6 linked regions of the Homo sapiens genome follow. The protein of the gene in region 3 purifies or fractionates together with the protein of the main gene of each other region. This does not show direct contact. Each region holds a gene or a part of one and is shown on either strand. Other genes may lie near its edges. The genes, in order: PARN, IFT81, SLX9, NOP14, DHX37 and MME.

Evidence for each region.
Region 1: the proteins of SLX9 (region 3) and PARN purify together in Homo sapiens (affinity purification with mass spectrometry; one large-scale study listed by BioGRID and IntAct). This does not show direct contact.
Region 2: the proteins of SLX9 (region 3) and IFT81 purify together in Homo sapiens (co-immunoprecipitation; one large-scale study listed by IntAct). This does not show direct contact.
Region 4: the proteins of SLX9 (region 3) and NOP14 purify together in Homo sapiens (affinity purification with mass spectrometry; one large-scale study listed by BioGRID and IntAct). This does not show direct contact.
Region 5: the proteins of SLX9 (region 3) and DHX37 purify together in Homo sapiens (affinity purification with mass spectrometry; one large-scale study listed by BioGRID and IntAct). This does not show direct contact.
Region 6: the proteins of SLX9 (region 3) and MME purify together in Homo sapiens (co-immunoprecipitation; one study listed by IntAct). This does not show direct contact.

Annotation. Positions count from the first base shown.
Region 1 is NC_000016.10:14,578,261-14,581,760, forward strand, and holds part of PARN (poly(A)-specific ribonuclease PARN), read right to left. Parts: intron 2,684-3,500; coding exon 2,614-2,683; intron 1-2,613. UniProt on the Homo sapiens protein: 3'-exoribonuclease that has a preference for poly(A) tails of mRNAs, thereby efficiently degrading poly(A) tails.
Region 2 is NC_000012.12:110,214,857-110,218,356, forward strand, and holds part of IFT81 (intraflagellar transport protein 81 homolog), read left to right. Parts: intron 1-3,187; coding exon 3,188-3,370; 3' UTR 3,371-3,500. UniProt on the Homo sapiens protein: Component of the intraflagellar transport (IFT) complex B: together with IFT74, forms a tubulin-binding module that specifically mediates transport of tubulin within the cilium. Binds tubulin via its CH (calponin-homology)-like region.
Region 3 is NC_000021.9:44,943,029-44,946,528, forward strand, and holds part of SLX9 (ribosome biogenesis protein SLX9 homolog), read left to right. Parts: intron 1-655; coding exon 656-809; intron 810-3,500. UniProt on the Homo sapiens protein: May be involved in ribosome biogenesis.
Region 4 is NC_000004.12:2,939,407-2,942,906, forward strand, and holds part of NOP14 (nucleolar protein 14), read right to left. Parts: intron 2,946-3,500; coding exon 2,786-2,945; intron 2,324-2,785; coding exon 2,176-2,323; intron 240-2,175; coding exon 121-239; intron 1-120. UniProt on the Homo sapiens protein: Involved in nucleolar processing of pre-18S ribosomal RNA. Has a role in the nuclear export of 40S pre-ribosomal subunit to the cytoplasm.
Region 5 is NC_000012.12:124,968,632-124,972,131, forward strand, and holds part of DHX37 (probable ATP-dependent RNA helicase DHX37), read right to left. Parts: intron 2,785-3,500; coding exon 2,671-2,784; intron 338-2,670; coding exon 236-337; intron 18-235; coding exon 1-17. UniProt on the Homo sapiens protein: ATP-binding RNA helicase that plays a role in maturation of the small ribosomal subunit in ribosome biogenesis. Required for the release of the U3 snoRNP from pre-ribosomal particles.
Region 6 is NC_000003.12:155,181,319-155,184,204, reverse strand, and holds the end of MME (neprilysin), read right to left. Parts: 3' UTR 501-2,886; downstream 1-500. UniProt on the Homo sapiens protein: Thermolysin-like specificity, but is almost confined on acting on polypeptides of up to 30 amino acids. Biologically important in the destruction of opioid peptides such as Met- and Leu-enkephalins by cleavage of a Gly-Phe bond.

The sequences.
Region 1 (3,500 bases), on a different chromosome or scaffold from region 3:
GGAGGTTGCAGTGAGCTGAGATCACGCCACTGCACTCCAGCCTAAGTGACAGAGTGAGACTCTGTCTCACCAAAAAAAAAAAAAAAAAAAAAGAGGAATAAAAACAGTTCTTGGCTAGGCGCGGTGACTAACGTCTGTAACTCCAGCACTCTGGGAGGCCGAGGCGGGTGGATCACCTGAGGTCAGGAGTTCGAGACCAGCCTGACCAACATGGAGAAACCCCATCTCTACTAAAAATACAAAAAAATGGCCGGGCATGGTGGCACTTGCCTGTAATCCCAGCTACTTGGGAGGCTGAGACAGGAGAATCACTTGAACCCGAGAGGCAGAGGTTGCGGTGAGCCGAGATCACGCCATTGCACTCCAGCCTGGGCAACAAGAGTGAAACAACATCTCAAAAAAAAAAGAAAGAAAAAAAACACAGTTCTTATTTTGTATTTCAAATCTTGCAGGAATATTTTTCCTTTAATGATGAAGAAAATATTCTTCCTTTACAGATTGGAAAAAAATAGACCAAAAAAATAATCACAGAAGGATTCCCAAATCCCACCTCCTATTCAACTACTCTTGGTATGCATCTAGGTTTTACAAAAAAATTCTGAATGGACAGATGTCCCAATTCAAAATAAGCCTACACATTTACTGTCTAGTTCTTTTCAATAATAGTCCTGCACAGTATTAGCAATATTAGATTGATCTAGAAATACAGAAAGTCTCAGCTAGCTTTTTTTTCTTTTTTTTTTTGAGAGGGAGTCTCACTCTGTTGCCCAGGCTGGAGTGCAGTGGTGTGATCTTGGCTCACTGCAGCTTCCGCCTCCTGGTTTCAAGCGATTCTCCTGCCTTAGCCTCCCGAGTAGCTGGGAATACAGGCTAATTTTTGTACTTTTAGTACAGACCGGTTTTCACCATGCTGGCCAGGCTGGTCTCGAACTCCTGACCTCGAGTGATCTGCCCGCCTTGTTCTCCCAAAGTGCTGGGATTACAGGCGTAAGCCACTATACCCAGCCCAGCTAAGCTTTTTAATCAAAGTTTATTTTGATTGCTCTGCATGTTGGTCACATACATGACTGATAAACTAGATGCAGCCCACATCTAACCCAGTTTGCATCCAACATCTGATTTTATAAGGAGCTGACTTTAGTGGAGAAGCAGGATTACTGTTTTAATATTTACAGCGTGTAAATATTTACAAATGACTACTCAAGAGACTGAGGTGGAAGGGTCACTTGAGCTCAGGAGGTGGAGGCTGCAGTGAGCCAAGATCATGCCACTGCACTCCAGCATGGAAAAAAGAGCAAGACCGTGACTCAAAAAAATAATAATAATAATACAAATGAGTCAACATCTCTCAGTTGAAAAATACTGCAGAACAATGAATTTAACATCAAGTACATAAAAATGTAAGGGAACAATCATAATTGGACCTATATTTAGCTGGCCACGGTGGTTCACACCTGTAATCCCAGCACTTTGGGAGGCTGAGGTGGGCAGATAACCTGAGGTCAGGGAGTTCGAGAGAAGCCTATTCAGCATGGTGAAACACCATCTCTACTAAAAATATAAAGATTAGCCAGGTGTGGTGGTACATGCCTGTAGTTCCAGCTACTCCATAGGCTGCAGCAGGAGGACTGCTTGAACCCAGGAGGCAGACATTGCCGTGAGCTGAGATTGTGCCACTGCACTCCACATTGCAGCCTGGGTGACAGAGTGAGACACCATCTCAAAAAAAAAAAAAAAGAACTATATTTAACATCAATCACCTGTGGGTTCCATGGTCTACAGCAAAGGCTACATTTCCAAAGACAAACACTGCCCCAAAAAATAAAAGAGCTAAGAAAATCATGTTTTCTACAGGCGCCCGCCACCGTGCCGGCTAATTTTTTGTATTTTTAGTAGAGATGGGGTTTCACCGTGTTAGCCAGGATGGTCTCAATCTCCTGACTTCATGATCCGCCTGCCTCAGTCTCCCAAAGTTGGGGGATTACAGGCGTGAGCCACCGCGCCTGGCCAGGAAATTTTCTTTTGTTTTTTTTGTTTTTTTTTTTCAGACAGAGTTTTGCTGTGTTGCCCAGGCTGCAGTGCAGTGGTGCAATCTCAGCTCACTGCAACCTCTGCCACCTGGGTTGAAGCAATTCTCCCACTACAGCCTCCCGAGTAGCTGGGATTACAGGCACATGCCACCACGCCTGGCTAATTTTTGTATTTTTAATAGAGACGAGTTTCATCATGTTGGCCAGGCTGGCCTCGAACTCCTGACCTCAAGCACTCTGCCCACCTCAGCCTCCCAAAGTGCTGGGATTACAGGTGTGAGCCACCACACCCGGCCCCTCATAGGAAATTTAAATGCCAGAACTACCAGTTCTTTTTCTTGGAAGAGATCTACTATACTACGTCTAGCAATGTTTTCTTTTTTTTTTTTAAGCCTATATTTTTAATACATTTGTTCCCCAAAAGGTCACTTTCTACTTTCAAAAAACATGTGAGTCACTCGAGATGAAAAACAGCTTATCTAAAAATGTGTTATAGCTCCCAATAACTCCAAACTGACATCCCAAGATATGAGGCTGTTCCACAGTGAGAGAACTTGGAAACTGGAACTCTCTGATTACTTACTTGTTAAAAAAAGGTTCAATGAGTTTTGATCTGGCAGACACATGAATTTTTGGAGGGCTGAGAAAAGAACCTAATGAAGAAAAGAAGAGAGGTATTATTATTCATAGTCACATAGACCAAGCCTGAAAGTTCAGACCAAAACAGATTTAAATTAACAGCATGGTTCAACAAGTGTGAAAGGTATTCTTTTTTTTTTGAGTCAGAGTTTCACTCTTGTTGCCCAGGCTGGAGTGCAATGGCGCAATCTCGGTTCACTGAAACTTCCACCTCCCAGATTCAAGTGATTGTCCTGCCTCAGCCTCCCGAGGACCAGGGATTACAGACATGTGCCACCATGCCCAGCTAATTTTGTATTTTTAGTGGAGACAGGGTTTTTCCATGTTGGTCAGGCTGGTCTCAAACTCCTAACCTCAGGTGATCCACCCACCTCAGCCTCCTAAAGTGCTGGGATTACAGGAGTAAGCCACTGCGCCCGGCCTGTGAAAGGTATTCTTACGCACCAAGTACCATACCACAGCAAGTGTCAGTGGTTTTTCTTGCAGATTTCCTCCTCCCCTCATCTCCTCCCACTCCTACCTCAAAACCCTCCCACTTTTAATTGGGTGAGTGGATCCCAAGGAAATGGTAGTGCTATAGGTTCAATGTTTGTGTCCCCCTAAAATTCATATGTTGAAGCCTCCCCAGTACGATGGTATTTGGAAGTGAGACCTTTGGGAGGTAATTAAGTCACGAGGGAATTAGTGCCCTTATAAGAAGGGTCAGGAGGCTGGGTGCGGTGGCTCAAGCCTGTAATTCCAGCACTTTGGGAGGCTGAGGTAGGAGGATCACTTGAGCCCAGAAATTCTAGATCAGCCTGGTTAACACAGCAAGACCCTGTCTCTATAAAA
Region 2 (3,500 bases), on a different chromosome or scaffold from region 3:
CAGAAGTCTTAAAATTCTTGGTCTGCCTTAATGGCCTTTCTAAATACTTTTTAGTTTATAAGGATAAAATATTTGTTGTAAGATACATTATTTGTAACATAAACTTAAATAGATGTATTAATATGCCAGGTATTGCATCAAAAAATTTACTGGTTATATTTATATTTTTAAAATTCTGTGTTGTTTTCTATTCCTGTTTGCTGTTAACTTTGCTTTCATTATGCATAGCTGGGTGGGCAGTATTTAATGGGTGGTTTGACTCTGGTCCTCAGCTTAGTTAATCCTCTTATTTAGGCAAGTACCAACTACCAGCATTCTCATTTGTGTCTCAGATCAACTAGTATATTGACCGTATGTTAAAAGAGGAAAGGATGAGGTTGTTCCTTTGCACTCTGCCTCTGTGTCTCTGCTTGCTTTTCTGTCCCTCTTGGTGATTTTCTCACACTCGGTGTCGGTACAGATATTTCCAACACACTGCATTTCGTTCTATGTGCACTTTCACCTTCTCTACCAAAATGTCAACTGTAGTTGTCTCTAGCACATGGGATTATGAATGAATTCCTTTCTTTTCTTTTTCTTCTCTTCTTCTTCTTCTTCTTTTTTTTTTTTTTTTTTTTTTTTTTTTTGAGACAGTCTCACTCGTCACCTGGGCTGGAGTGTAATGGCATGGTCACAGCTCACTGCAGCCTTGAGTTCCCAGGCTCAAGTGATCTTCTTGCCTCGGCCTCCTGAGTAGCTGGGACCACAGGCATGTGCCACCATACACAACTAATTAAAAAAAAATTTTTTTTTTGTAGAGACAGGGGCGTCTCACTTTGTTGCCCAGGCTGGATTCTCTCTCTCTTTTTTCCTACCGTGTCACTTATTGTCTCTGACTTTGTGTCTACTCTTGCTTTCAGTCACCCTTCCTCAATTTGCCATAATATAGAACTAAAGTATATTTTTGTAATTTATTGAAGATTCTTTTATTCCTGTTTAAAATTTTAGAGTCAATGAGTAAAACAGTTTTGGCAGGTGGACCATCTAAGATGTTAGTAACAAAAACAATTCTAAGAAGGATTTTGGCTTATTTAATAGTGTACTATTTTCGTAATCACTGGGCCTGCTCTCTGAAGTATATGTGCATACAATTTGATTTATTTGGACATAAATAGAGTATACACTGTTTCAGGATAAGATAGAATATAACATTTAATAACAAGGATATATATAATACATGATAATTTATCAAGTATTTCAATATCTATTATGTCACTTGAAAACATAATCTTACCAAGTAAATACTTTTATTTTCCCCTATTATTAGCCTTGGTTTGGTTGTTTTGTTTTGTTTTGTTTTGTTTTGTTTTTAAGAGACAGGATCTCGCTCTGTTGCCCAGGCTGGAGTGCAGTGGTGAGAGCATAGCTCACTGCAGCCTCAAATTCCTGGCTCAAGTGACCCTTCCACCTCAGCCTCCCAACTAGCTAGGACTACAGGCATGTGCCACCACCATGCCCAGATAATTTTTTAATTTTTATTTTTGTAGAGACAGAGTATCATGTTACCCAGGCAGGCCTTGAACTCCCCAGCTCAAGCAATCCTCCTGCCTTGGCCTCCCAAAGTGCTGGAATTACAGGTGTGAGTCACCGTGCCCAGCCCCCAGCCTCCTATTATTCACCTTAATTTTTTTTTTTTTCCAGAGACGGAATCTCACTCTGTTGCCCAGGCTGGAGTGCAGTGGCACAATCTTGGCTCACTCTGCCTTCCAGGTTCAAGCAATTCTCCTGCCTCAGCCTTCTGAGTAGCTGGAATTACAGGCACATGCCACCATGTCCGGCTAATTTTTGTATTTCATATTTTTGTATTTTTAGTACAGATGGGATTTCACCATGTTGGCCAGGCTGGTCTCGAACTCCTGACTTCAGGTGATCTGCCCACCTATATAGCATGAGTCCTGTTTTCCACTTGAAACTCCAAGCATACCTGACATATAACAGGTGCTTCATAATTATATCTTGAATAAATAAGTATTAGGTTTTAGTATATAGAATATACTGATCCTGTTGGTTTCTTGAGAAATTTTTATGTAAATGGAAATTCTAAAACAAAATGTGGACATTTCTCAGGCTTAGGCTAATAAATGAATTATTTTAAAGCTATATGAGCTATAACTGTACATTCTTGAGTAATATGTCATGTATATCCTCCTAGCTGGTTTTTGTTGGAGAACTAGAAAGGCAAGCAGTTTGACTTAGAGTCTCATAGTGGCACGACTGCAGCTCATTGCAACCTCCACCTCCCAGATTGAAGCCATTCTCCTGTCTCAGCCTCCTGAGTAGCAGGGACTACAGGCACACGCCACCATGCCCTGCTAATTTTTGTATTTTTAGTAGAGATAGGGTTTCACCTTGTTGATCAGGCTGGTCTCGAACTCCTAACCTCAAGTGATCTATCCGCCTCAGCCTCCCAAAGTGCTGGGATTACAGTCGTGAGCCACCATGCCTGGTCTATTAACCTTAATTGATAATTGAGAAAACTGAAGTCCCAAGAAATTAAGTGCCTTGCTTACCACTAGAGGAGACAAAACCAGATTAAAACCGAAGTCTTCTGACTTCCAAACTCTACATTCTTCTTTTCACACCATGATACTGTTCCACTTTCCTAACTATCTTTTTCTCTCACTTCCTTTTATAGTTTTGTGTAGTTTTTTTTGTTTGTTTGTTTTTGTTTTTTGTATTTTCTTTGAGACAGAGTCTTGCTCTGTTGCCAAGCTGGAGTGTAGTGGCGTGATCTCGGCTCACTGCAAACTCCGCCTCCCAGGTTCAAGCGATTCTCCTGCCTCAGCCTCCCGAGTAGCTGGGACTACAGGCGCGTGCCCCCATGCCTGGCTAATTTTTTTTTGTATTTTTTTGGAGAACTAGAAAGGCAAACAGTTTGACTTAGTGTTGGATTTAGTAGAGCTCTTGATCTCCTGACCTCATGATCTGCCCACCTCAGCCTCCCAAAGTGCTAGGTTTACAGACATGAGCCACCTCGTCTGGCCTTAGTTAACTTTTATAATCTTAGTTTTGGTACATTATAGAGTATGTGGTTTAGCTAACTATTTTTTATCTACTGTAGAAAACATACCATATTCCTCCGACTATAGCAATAGAAATAAACCCCTGTAACTGAGATTTAATTATTCTTGTTTTTTTTTAATGATAGAAACTTCGGGAAAAACAAAAAGTTATACGAGAAAGTCATGGTCCAAATATGAAACAAGCAAAAATGTGGCGTGATTTGGAACAATTAATGGAATGTAAGAAACAGTGCTTTCTGAAACAACAAAGCCAAACTTCCATTGGTCAGGTAATTCAGGAGGGTGGGGAGGACCGGCTAATACTGTGAATTCTTGTGTCATCGTTTGGGGTTTTACTTGATACCACTAGCTATAAGCCTAATCTCATAATGTATTTCTTTTTTGAAACTGATTTGTATAGCATTTTGTTTTCAGAAGAGCCATTCTTTATTAAGTTTT
Region 3 (3,500 bases):
TCTGACCCCCTTCAGAAACCTCTGTTGAGGTCGATGCTGCCTTCCCTGCCAAGGTCAGTGAGGCTTGCACATGAATGGGCTGGGCAGCACGGGGGTCAGGGACGGGGGGGTTCTGTCTCCTCACGGTTTGGTCGGCAGCTGACTTGGAGGAACTGAAATCTTCATGCAGGGATGAGTGTGGCTCAGAACCAGACCTGGCAGAGAGGCTGCTGAGATGACTAGTTCTGATGGGATGTGGTCAGTCTGAGCTGAAAGAGCTGTCAGGCTGGGAGCTGCCTATCCTTCATCTGCTCAGCTGCAGGTTTCTTCTGTGACACAGGAGAATGTTGTAGAAAGAGTAAGACGAAATGGTTGGGAAGGAAATTTGGTTCTTGAGATACTGGTCCTGACTCCTGAAGAACCAGGAGTGAAGCCCGTCTGGTGATTGAAGGCAGGGAGCAGGTGGGCCTGGGCGCTGCGGGTCTGCCCTGGAGCTCTGGAACCGGAGGCTTCTGCTCTGGGAGGTGAGGGTTGTTTCCCCCAGGTCCTCCCGGGCAGAGAAGCTGGGGAATCCAGGTTCTTGTCTTGCATCTTCTCCTCACCTTTAACGTCCCTCTGAAACCACAGAGCAAGTCTCACACCTCTTCTTTTCGTCCGTTTTTGTTGGGGACATTAGGACTGGGCGTTCATCAACACCAACATCTTTGCCAGGACCAAGATAGACCCCAGCGCCTTGGTGCAGAAGCTGGAGCTGGACGTGAGGAGTGTCACTTCCGTCAGGAGAGGTGAGGCAGGCTCGAGTGCACGGAGCGTCCCTTCCATCAGGAGAGGTGAGGCAGGCTCGACGGGTTACCATGCTGATACCCAGCAGGTCTGGGATTGTTCCCTCAGGCACCCGAGGTCTCAGCAGCTTTCCAGCTAACCTGTACCTGACAATGTCCTTGAGCAAGGGATGCCCCTGGCTGTTTCTTGGGGCGATTCCCCAGAGTAGATTACAGCTGTGGTTTTGCCCCTGGGCTGCATCATGTCTCCGCAGCTCTGCAAGAACTGCTCTGCGTCCTGGCAGCCACGCTGAAGCCACAGGAACTTGGGCTTTGGTGACCAACAGGGTTTGAACTGTTTTCTCCGTGTGTGCTGATTCTTTCGGTCTGTCTGTATGTTTGGGGCAGTTTTGATCCTTTTCTTAAACAAGTGCTTTATGTGTTGCAGAGGTTAGCTGCTTATCATTTTGTACAAATAACTCTTGAGGGTTTAGATCCTGAAGCCGAAGCAGGGTCCTCTCAGTTTCATCAGATCCATGCGCAGCCCTTCCCGTCTCCTGGTTGTGCTCCTTGCAGCCCTGCAGCACACACGTCAGCCTGGCCAGTGAGAGGGTCTGGGAACTCCCACTCACTCCAGTGTCCGGAGCTTAGCAGGGAACGCCGTCCCCCTGCACCTCCTACTGAGTCTGAGGTGTTTTAGAGAGTTCCCGGCCACCATGGTCAATGCTGGGAGTGTTGACTTTCTGGCTGGAGGATGGTGAGCAGTGTCACTTCCCAGGGATAAATCCAGGAAAAAGCTTCCTTCACTCATCTAAGGGAGTCGGTGAGGAGCACAAGGAATACTTTTTACATCTTGACAGCCTTGGGAAGTCATAGGTTGGGGAGGGAGAGGGCCTGGCTGTGGGGGCAGAGCTCAGGGCACCAGTGTGACAGTGAAGACTGCATGTGGCTTCACAGTCGGCAGAGCTGGGAGCGCCAGGACAGGGCAGGAGCCGGGTCTGGGGCCTGTAGATGGCCCGTTAAGATCGTGGGCTCTGGGCCTCTGCCCCTCACCGCCTGGTAGCCTCTGGCTGGACACTTGATCGCTCTGGGCCTGGGCTTTGCATCTGTCAAAGGAGGTAACAGTATTTATCTCCTAAGTTCTGGCAGTTTTGAGTTTGAGATGAGGTAGTTGGTGTGAAACGTTTAAAACAGTGCAGTGAAGGCTGTGGAGGCGCCCGCTCTGCATCTGTTGAACGAGGCTGGTCTGGTGGGAAGGCTGGGGACGAGTGGGTTTTGCAGCTGCCCAGAGGTGGGCCAGCCCTAATTCCTTGGGCACAAGTCATGTGATCACGGGTGCTCTGTGACCCTTAGCTCCATTGTCCACAAAGCGGCGACAGACATAGCTCATAGATGCTAAGGGCCTCACTGTGCCTCTAGAAAGATCCAGGTACATTTAACCAGTGCAGGTTTCCTGCTCCTTCTCTCCAAGGAGGACCTGGTGAGGTGACCAGGCCAGGTAACTCCAGAGAGAAGCTGTGCCTTCCAGCCAGGAACGCTTGATGTGGGTGGTCCGCCCGAGCTGTGTCCCTGGTTGCTGACAAGGCCCTTAAGGCTGTCCCCAAGGGGATGGGAGTCGTGGGTCTCAGTGACCTGGCTCTGGCCTGAGCTTCTCAGAGCTCTTTCACACAGCAGCCTCTTTCCTCTGCCTTTTCTTGGCCCTCTCCCTTCAAGCCCCTGTGGCTCATCTGGTCCCCAAGGTCACCTGCTGCACTGACTGTCACGTCCCCTCTTCCCCTCCTAATTTAGGGAGACGTCACGCTCACGACCCGTCTTGCCTACCAGGGAAACTCCTCTTTAGCAACATCTGGCCTCGCAGCGTTCTTGGGCTGAGGTCGTGCCCAGCAGCCCTGTGGCCTCTCCTTTGAGCCATGCTGGATCTTTGTTTTTGTTTGTTTGTTTTTTGTTTGTTTGTTTGTTTGGAGACAGAGTCTTGCTCTGTCGCCAGGGTGGAGTGCAGTGGCTTGATCTTGGCTCACTGCAACCTCCGCCTCCTGGGTTCAAGTGATTCCCCTGCCTCAGCCTCCTGAGTAGCGGGGACGGGACAACAGGCACATGCCACCACGCCCAGCTAACGCCACCACGCCCGGCTAATTTTTGTATTTTTAGTAGAGATGGGGTTTCACCCCGTTGGCCGGGATGGTCTCGATCTCTTGACCTCAGAGATCTGCCTGTCTTGGCCTCTCAAAGTGCTGGGATTACAGGTGTGAGCCACCACGCCCGGCCTGGTCTTTGTTTTTCGTAAGCTCAAACCTCATTAATTTAGAGTAACTGGTGGGAGAGGGTAGAAGCTTGAACTTTACAATGTCAAAGATTGATTTCAAATTTCAGAACCATGTTATCAGAGTAGAGCATAGAAGTGTTTTCTTGAAATAATTGAACAATAAGTTGAAAAAATTTGAAGATTCTATTGTTTGTGAGTCTGTTGGGTAATTAATTTTTTTCTTAATTCACATACCCTTATTTGTGCATAAAAATCTTAAAGCTTGTGCTGACGGGACTGTAGCGTGGCCCGTTCTGGCGCTCCCCAGCCCTGAGCTCGTGCTGACAGTAGCGTGGCCCGTTCTGGCGCTTCCTGCTTGTGTGCAGGTGTTTCCCATAGCCCGCCTTGAGGGGCACGAGGATGGGAATTATTTGAGCCGTGCGGCAGGGTCAGGGTTTTGGGTGTTGGGGAGGAGCCTTGGCCTGGGGAGGCACTTAGTGCTTCTGGCCAGGAGCCGG
Region 4 (3,500 bases), on a different chromosome or scaffold from region 3:
CTTGGGAGTGTGGCTTCACTCCGTAGTCATCTGCTCAACTGCAGAACTGGCAGACGCCCCCCGTCAGCTCCCACTGAGCCCACAGCCCTGGCCTCCCAGGGAGATGCTGCCAGCACCCACACTTTGACCAGCCGGGGTGTGAAAAGCTTCAGTGGGACAGGCTTGCTCTTCTCACAGGTCAGCGGCCGGCAGAGCTGCTTCTGGCTTTCCATTTCGGTCAGTGTGCTCTGACACAGCTCCTGAAAAACACGAAATCCCCGACTCTGCGATGACTCACCTGCTGCGTGCCCTGAGCTCCACGCACGGGTTCTGTGGTGTCAAGGCAGCGTGAGGACAGTGCTGCGAGCTCCCTGCAGCAGGATGGTGCCCTTGCTGTGCGCCTACCGGTGGGCGGGGGGGTAAGCCAAGGCTGTGGCTGCTCAAGTCCTGGCACAGCCGGAACGAAGTAAAGCCACTGTCTTCTTGAAGAGGGAGGGCCGTGGGCTGGCCCCTGAGAGCACTCTCTGAAAGGAGGGGACTTGGGGAGTTGGAGGTCACCATAGCCTGTGCTCCTCACAGCCAGAAACGTCAACAGAACCCCTCTTTCCCAGACAAACTTGGCACGAAAGGCCGTGAGCCACTTGCTTCGTGAGAAGGCTCACAGGAGAACCCCTTTCTGCCGCGGGGGGCCGTGTGCATGCTAGAGCCCAGTGTGCAAACTGACGCTGGGTGCTAGGCGGGGCAGGGTTTCCACCAGTCTTGGCAGTTTGACCTTATTTTCAAGCCAACAGAACCAGATGGTTAAGACCCATTTTCACCAAGACCTTGGCTTCCAGAAGAGTTGGCTGGTGGCTTCTGAGGAATCTCCCGAAAGGTAGTTCACTGAGGTTGGTCCTACCCGCTTTCTCCTGCACAGGTGTGTCCTGGAACCCTGGCTGCACCCACAGATACAGCCACTCCTGGGCCCATGTGGATGTAACCTTCGAGTGCCGGAATGCCTCGTCTCCATGGAGACCAAACTCAAGGGCCTGACTGGCCCAGTCTACCGAGACCATGAGACCTGCTGTGCCCCTCGGCCAGGCCAACCCAAATTCTTTTAAATAAAAGGCACAAGCCACAGCCACACCAGCAGGAAGTGGATACAGGATAAGGGGCAGGGCTCACATCTCATCCTCATCAGCCTTTGACCAGGCGACGGAGTCTGTGATAGCTAGCTTATCTGCTCTATGCTCCAGGGACCTGGCCGGAACGAGCCGAGTTGCTGTCCTCATGGAACTCTCATCCTAGTGGGGCAGAGACAAGGACGGTGTAACGTGCCCGGGGGTCAGCACCACAGACAAAACGCAGGGAGCACGGCACAGTGTGGGCCAGGGAAGGCCTGGCTTCCCAAGGGTGTGGGCGCGAGCAGCATGGCTGTGGGGAGTTCTAGGTGCAGAGAACTACTCCAGAGACGAAGCCAGGCCTGCGAGGAGGCCGGAGCGCATGAGGGGAAGGCACGAGGCAAGGCTGCCAGGGCTGTGCTGGTGGTGCGGGACGGTCCTGTGGGGGTAGCTGCGGAGATGGCACTGATGCCTTCGGCTCCAGCAGCATCCTGGGCTGGTGCGGGCCAATAAGGGGCAGGGTTGGGGCAGGATGAAAGGCACAAGCCACAGCCATGTCAAGCAGGAAGTGGATGCAGGGTACAGCCTGTCAGGGTCAGGGTGAAAGGCAGGGAGGCGGGTAGGCCATAGGTGAATTTGGAGCAGCCTGTAGAGGACAGGATGTGCCATCAAAGACTTGTTCTTGGGTCCAGCTGAGACTGTCCCTTGGGGCTTCCTGTCACCTTGTGCAGGATAGTGAGACCATCCTTGGAAAACCCATCGGGACTGCAGAGCGCGGCTCAGAGCTGACTGTCCAGGCCTGGCAGGGGCTGACCCCTGGGCGCTGGTGCACCCTCCGTGCGGCCTCTTGGAGGAAGCACACAAGGCGACAGTTCCCAGCTGCCGCCTGAGATGCAGCATCTGCTTTACTCCAGCCCAGCACTGCTCACCGTCACTGCCCACTCTTATGATTTTACTTCCCTTCATATTTGTGATTTTGCAAAGATGGTGTTGACTTACAGCTGCAGCATCAAATGACTGACTGCCACCAGCTTGGCCCCAGCTCAGGGACATGTCTGAGCCCAGGCAGAGCACCCTAGTGGCCGGGAAGCCTCACCTGGAGCTCCTGCGGGTGGCTGCAGTCCGCCAGGTGATCCGTGAGGAGGGCTTGGAGAGGCCCCATGATGGCGTGGAAGGATGGCAGGGACCCGTACATGAGCACGCAGCGCTTCAGCAGGGCCAGGCCCACAGCCAGGCAGGACAGTCTGTGAGGGCAGGAGGCAAGAGGAGGTCCAACTTGTTCTGTTTGTCACTGACAAAACCAATAACGTGGCAAAAATGAACTTCCCCACTTCCACTAGGCTGAAAACTCCAGTGTGGCCACCTTGGCCGGCCAGGGTTGGGCCCATGCAACCACGGGCAAGGCAGGCTCAGGGTCAGGCCTAACGCAGGAGGGGAGGCTGTGGGAACCGCAGCGCCAGCTGGGATGGGGCGGCTCCATTTTTGGTTCCAAATTATGATTTGTGAAATCAAGCAAATGTATTTTGAAAATGAAAAGAAAAAGGGACAGCAAGCCAACATGCCTCAGAAAGGCTTTCGGCCTCCATCAAACCAAACGGCCGGGCGGCAAGTTCACTAAGAACAGCACATCAGAAAGCACGAGTGGCTTCTCCTGCCTCTGGGGACGCTGTAGGGCACAGGCCCCAAAGCGGGGTCCCCTCACATACCGGATGTGATTGGCCTCTGTCGAAGTTGGGGCCCTCAGTCTACTCGCCCAGCGGAGGGAGAGGCTGCTCTGCTGCCACGTGGCCACATCCTCTCTAGCAGACACCACGAGCAGTTCCGAGTTCTTCCCAAGCGCTCTGAAAGGGTGCACCAGAGTGGAACCTGAATTCCAAGTGCGACAGGACAGAGATGGCCTGAACATTACTGGGCTCCCAGCAGGCTCTGCGGCACCGAGCCTGTGGAAGTTCACCCTCTAACAGACGCACACCGATTTTTATGTTTCTGGGTTGTGCCAGACACTGAGGGTTTCAGCGTGGGCAGGGACACCTCAGGGGAGGGGAAAAGCTTTGGCAGGGGGCGCGGTGAGAGCCAAGTGCCTGATCCTGCCTGAGAGGCCTGCTGGCCACAGACTTCCTGGGGCCTACTAGGCACACATGGGGCTGATGAGGCGCTCAGGCCACATCCGGGAACAGACTGAAGTCCCTGCCCCTGTCGGGGAGACAGGCAGTGCACAGCACCCAGAGGAGCAAATGGACCAGACAGAACACGAGAAAGGAAAGTGGAGGGGCAGGAGGGAGACAGGAGAGTCAGTCGGGGGTGACGGTGGAGGGCGGGAGAGGCCTGAGGGGCAGACGTCAGCAAAGGCCTGTAGGACGCAGGAGTCAATTCACTCGCCACGGAGAAGGGCAATCCAGGCCGAGGGTGTGGCTACACGGG
Region 5 (3,500 bases), on a different chromosome or scaffold from region 3:
AACTGCCTGGATTCCACCTGTGGGACGCCCAGGAAGGCATGGGGAGTGGGGGGGACACGAGCTTCGGCCCAGGGCTGCCTTCCCTTTCCCCATTATTCCGAATCAAGGTTTCTAACACCCCCTCCAAGCTGCTGTCAATCCCCCCTGTGACCAAGTGAGGTCTCTCAGGGGGCTCCCGACACCAGGGCGTCCTTGTGCCATCCAAGCTCACAGAGGACATGGGACCCTGTGTTACCTTGATGACCGGCGGCGGCTTGGCGAAGAGCCGTGGGTTCTGGGTGAAGTCCTCCACCCGCAGCGTGGCCGACATGATGAGCAGCTTGAGTGGCAGGTTCCTCTGCAAAAGGACAGGCTCAGTGACCGTGGCCCCAGGACCGCAGGTGGGTCTGAAGCCTGGGAAATCGGCATGGGGGTGCCCTGCTGCCCACCCCGTTTCCAGCCCCCACCCTCTGCCCCTTTCTGGATGCCAAAGGCTCCTTGGAGAAAGTGAGTCAATAGTGGGACCTGCCGCTCCCAGGGCGGTGGCTTGTTCCAGGGGGTCTTTCAGAGTCAGGCTTTGATGGTAGAATATGAGGCAGGTGGGCTGAGACTGGGGCCCACCCAACCCAGCTCCCACCTGACACCAAGATTGACTGAGTGTCTGTGCCGGGGGCTCAGGGAAGAGCTGCCTGATTCTCTGGGGTCTGTGGGGGGTGGGAGAGAGCTCCCGGGAGCTCCCTGGTCCCCAGGCCGCTCAGCAATGCCTAATGGCCTCATGGTGAGCTCTGCTTCAAGCTCTTGCTGCCTTTGCTGCTACGAAACCCCAAACCCAGAAGCTAAGGAGTGGCCAAAGCACCTCTGTGGGAGGCAGGACACCCAGCACAGGCCCCTCTCTTGCCCCACAGTGACCGTCCCTGTCTGCCTCACCCCCGTGCCTTCCGGACCCCACCTCACCCTCTCTGCTTGGCCACTCTAGACTTCCTGATGGCCCCCAAAGACATAAACCAAGGCCACAGTGAGGTGTCACTGTCCACCCACAGGGATGTCTAGAATAACAGAAATGGAAAACGACAAGTGCTGGCAGGATGTGGAGAAACTGGAAGCTCTGACACTGCTGGTGCGGAAGTACCATGGAATTCTGCAGCCGCTGGGGGAAATCATTTGCAAATGGTTACACACAGAGTGACCATGGTCCAGCTTCTTGGGAGGCTGAGGCAAAAGGATTCCTTAAGCCCAGAAGGTCGGGGTTGCAGTGAGCTGTGATTGCACCGCTGCACTCCAGCCTCAGTGACAATGAGACCCTGCCTCGAAAAAAAAAAACAAAAACCACCACCACAAAAAACCATAAAAGGCACAGCGTTTCTTTTTGTTTTTGTTTTTCAGATGAAGTCTCGCTTTCTCACCCAGGCTGGAGTGCAGTGGCGCGATCGCGGCTCACTGCAAGCTCCACCCGCTGGGTTCAAGTGATTCTCCTGCCTCAGCCTCCCGAGTAGTTGAGATTACAGGTGTGCGCCACCAGGCCTGGCTAATTTTTCGTTTTTTTAGTAGAGACAGGGTTTCACCATGTTGGCCAGGCTGGTCTTGAACTCCTGACCTCAAGTGATCCACCCGCCTCAGCATCCCACAGTGCTGGGATTACAGGCGTGAGCCACCGTGCCCGGCCTAGGGTTTCTTGTTGGATTGATGAGTGACAAAATATAAAACTGTGGTGATGGCTGCACACTCTGTGAACGGACTAAAAACCACTGAATTGTACATTTGAACAGATGAATGATATGAAATGTGAATCACAGCCCAATAAAGCTTGTTACCAAAAGAAAAAAGGCACCAGGCAGACGCCCGCCTCAGGACCTTTGCATTGCTCTCCTCCAGTCAGACTTCTCCTCGCTCTGCAATGCACGCCGCTCACTCCCTCCCTCATTCAGCCTTCCACTTGAGCTCAGAGGTCACTTTTCGGGTGAAGCCCTCACTAGCCCTGTGTCCTCCCTCCACTGCCCCCGGCTTTGTCTGTCACTGGCTCACATACTCTGAGTCTGCGTCCTGCCTGCCACCCTTGCTGAAGTGGAGGCCCCAGGAGGGCAGGAACTGTTAGAACAAGACAGCGTCTTGTTCACTGTTGATTTTCAGGGCCTTGAATGTGGCCAGGCTCATGGCACATGTGGAGCGCAGGCCCCTCTCCCCGCCGGGAGGGTGAGACAGGCCTACTGCATGAAGCCGCGCCCCAGGGTGGCACCCACCAACTCAGCAGGCCCCTGTGTCAGGCTGGGGCAGGGAGATGGAGAAAGAGGCCCTGGGGAGCCCCTCTCAGAGCTCCGGGAGCCTGGCCCTTGGCTGGGCAGGCCCACCTGCTCTGCTGATCCCAGAGGCCCAGAGGCCTCATCAACCAGCCCCATTGCGCCTGGCAAGGCATCAACACTTCTCCTGAGCCTCTTGCTTTGGATGGGGAGAAGGACACCAGTTTATGAGGCTGGCACCGGGGCGGTGGGGAGGGGATCACACAGGGGCTGTTCCAAGATTCACAGCCCTGGCACTAGGCCTAGACCTAGGCCCAGGGAGACCTTGTGCTCGGGGTACCTGCTCATGGCAGCAGCCCAGGGTACAACGGGGAACAGGTGAAGGAAGCCCAAGCCTCTGACAGAGCTGGGGGGGGCCTAGGGCTCGGGGCTCCCCAGCACCCGCCTCCTGCGCTACCTTAGCCCGGAGAGTCACAATGCGGGACAGGAGGCCGATGAGGATGTCCGTGTACACGCTCCTCTCGTGGGCCTCGTCGATGATCACCACCTTGTACCGCAGCAGCAGGAAGTCCTGGGGGGAGGTCCGGGGTGAGGCCCACCCTTCCAGCCTAAGCCCCAAGGGCCGCTTCACGTCCCAGAACTCCCACTTGAGGAGACAGTGTTAGAGGAAGGGCAGCTGCTCTTCATCAGAGGTGAGCTGCTCAACTCAGATGCCCGCAGAGTGGGAGGGCAGGTGGGAAATGGACATGAGATGTGGGGTGGGGCCGTGGGCAGTTGGACAGCAGGTGCCACACAGACAGGGGCCACCCAGACCCAAACTGCATCCACTGCCACCCCCAGGAGTCCCAGTGGCTTCAAAGCCAGGAGGGCTGGAATCACCTTTGCCATCCCCCTGGGAGATTGGCCCTGCCCAAGGGGACGTCACAGCCAGCACGGAGCACAGCTTCTTCACCAGACAGCAGTCCCCCACCCGGGCCCTGCATGCTCTCTGGACACGCGTGCCACCCACTTGACCGAATGGCCGGCTCCCTAGGAAGCATGGGGTGCTTCCCCAAGGCCCAAGTGGGCTGACTAGGGAGGCAGCAGCTGGGGTTCCGATTTACAAATGGAAAGTCCTTGGGACGCAGCTTCTGAGGCCAGGGACCGTGAAGACGCTCAAGGGCAAGCCCCAGCGGCCCCTCCCCTTTCCCTCAGCCTGAGGCTGGTACCCCACTCCGAGTCTGGTGCTGCCCCTCACCAAACGCAACTGGACTCGAAGCTCCCAAGAGGGGGCTGTGTCTGGACCCG
Region 6 (2,886 bases), on a different chromosome or scaffold from region 3:
TTTCTCACTGTTTTAGAGGAAATGCAAAATACAAAGAAGCAGAAATTAAGAAACCATTGTTAGATAAAAGATTAGAATGCGATAAACATGTGCCAGTTTGACCACCAGTCAGATGTGACTCCTCTGTCCACTTGACCAACCAAATGGTCAACTTCTTCAGACTAGAGACTGTGGATAAAGACACTTACTTTTGGCTTTTGCCTAAGTCATCTGATTATGCTAGTGACTCCATATAACATTTGATGGCCATTTCACTTTTGAAAAAAAATCCAATCAGAAAGTCATGGTGATCTTTGAAAAAGGGTGGGGAAAACAAGGACATAATGGATACAAAGCTTATATCATTCATTTTCTAAAAATTCAATTTGAAGCTAGTGGGAAATGCAAGACTACAGAGATAAAAGCTCCATTTAATCTTAATATTTTTCAAGAAATAAATGGGGTAGAGATTTACACAGGAGTTGGCAGTTTGGAACAGAGTTGACTAGGCATAAAAGCAATAGTATTAAAAACGTTTGTTTTTATTTTGTATTTTTGAGACTGGAAACTGATAAAAATTTCTGATTAGGAAACTTTGAGAATAGAGTCTTTCTTCTTTCCAAAATAACAAATGTCTTTTAGTTTGAGAGCTCCAGCTGTGGCAACAAGAATGATAAATGCTTTTGAGAAAATTAGCAAGGTTTTGCCCCACTTAAATGGTTAACAGTAACAGCAGCACAGACCCAAACTTGATAAAACTTTGGTACTTGTTATTTGGACTAAAATTTTGTCTCACTCGATTCAGACACGTAAATGGGAGTTTTCAGTTTATCCTGCCCACTGATTCATAACTGGGAGACAGATTCATGGGAAGGCAGCATTGGACACATACTCCTTCTCTTGCTGAGAACCACCAATATAATCTAATTCTCTTTTTTTAGGTGAGAGAAGCAGAGGCCCAAAGGAATATTGCAAATACCCAAGGTCACCCTGTCAGGAGTGGCAGAATAGGGCTGGAACAAGGACTCTTTTCTCTGGACAGCTTGCACCTACAATCCTTTCCATCTTGCACCTACAATCCACTCGAACACTGCAGCATGGAGGCAGACTCCTTGCCAACGGGTATTGTCGAGAGCTTCTTCCTACCATCATTTGTGAGTTTCATCAGCTCCCAACCCTTTGTGTCTCAGCTTCTAAACTTTCTTTCTTTGACCAGAACTCAGCCATAGTAGAACTGGATTTATGGATGGAATTAGAGATATGTCTTATCTGATGTGACAACTCCAAAGAATCGGTAGTGCTTTAGAGACATCAGAAGGCTCTACAGAACTCAACAAGAGTACCATGTAAAATTCATGATGTCTGGATGTGTGAGGGATAGGGAGGCATTGCTATTTTTGACTTTGATCTATCCTTTAGGCCCAGAAAATCTTATATTTGTAGACAGAGGGGATCCAGGCACTGGAGAGTTGTTCCTCCATAGGGATGGGAGCCTAATGTTTTAAAAAGCTAACAGTGAAGAGTCTAGTGGCTTTTTATAATTTGTACTAGTCACTCTTCACTTCTGGCTCTTCACCTGCTCTGACATGATGGAAATAAAATAAGTTAGAGACAGCTGTTTTATTAGAGCTGGAAGCTCCTATTACTCCAACTACAAATGTCACTTAGGTAAGTTTTAAATGTATTTTAGGGAAATATAAGTATACTTGTAACGGTGGTTGTGATAAAGGAGGAAAGGGTAAGGGTATCCACAGTTGGCTTGAAACTATAATTTCAATGCTTATAATAATTTTTGGAAGGATTTGAAGAAATAAGTCCATTAAAGGCTCAAGTAAGATGGTAACATGCAGTACATTCATAGTTGCACTATTTGTAATAGCGCCAAAATGGAAAGTTCTCAAGTGCCCATCAACAATAGGATGAACAAATTGTAATAAGTCCCACAATAGAACATTATTCTGCAATGAGAATGAAAAGATCCACAATCAGCACAATACAGAGGAATCTCACAAATGTAAGGCTGAGAGAAAGAAGCCAGGCACAAAAGAATACATACTGATTGATTCTATCTGCATAAAAGACAAAACCAGGCAAAGCTAGTGAATGATATTAGAAGTCAGGATAGTTGTTGTTCTGGGAGTAATAAAGTGACAAGGAGGTGCTTTTAGAGCGCTGGTACTGCTCTGTTTCTTACAGGTGCTGGCTACAGGGCCATTGTTCAGTTAAAGTTAAGTTTATTGAACTGTATACTTATGCTTTATGCAATTTATGTACATATGTTATAGTATTTCTGTAACTTTTTTTTTTAAAGGCAAATGGGCATTTTTCAAGAGACAGGGAACTAATACTCATCATTTAGATAGAAATTCCCTGCTTTCATCTTTTGTTAGGAAAAATAAGAATTTTGGAAGTGCTCCTCTTTTGTAAAATCTTAATCAAGTAATGAACGAAAATAGTCAATACAACAGGAAAAGAGAGGAACAGAAGCCTCAAAAGATGAATTCCTATCAAGCAGTAAACAGTTCTTTTCCAGAACTCTTTGTGACTTATAATTCTAGAAGGTCCATCAGAGGCCTCCCATTTCTATTCAGAAATGCACTTCTAAAGTTAGACAGTTGTCACAGTCTTAGGGAGCAATGAGTTCACAATTTCAATTTATTATCAAAATATTTCCATCTGATGACAAACCTGAAAAGACAGGAGATGCAGAGCTACATAGGTGCAGATTTGCCCTTTTATCAGAGACACTCTCAGGGACAGATTTAATTTTGAAAGTCCAATTTGAAAACCACAAGTATATATATCTCTAGACAACTGTCCAATGGCAATTTTTACCCTAAAGTTTGTGCTTAAATCTTTTCATCAATATGATTTATAAGTTTAAATAGTCTCAAATTTTCATCTGTA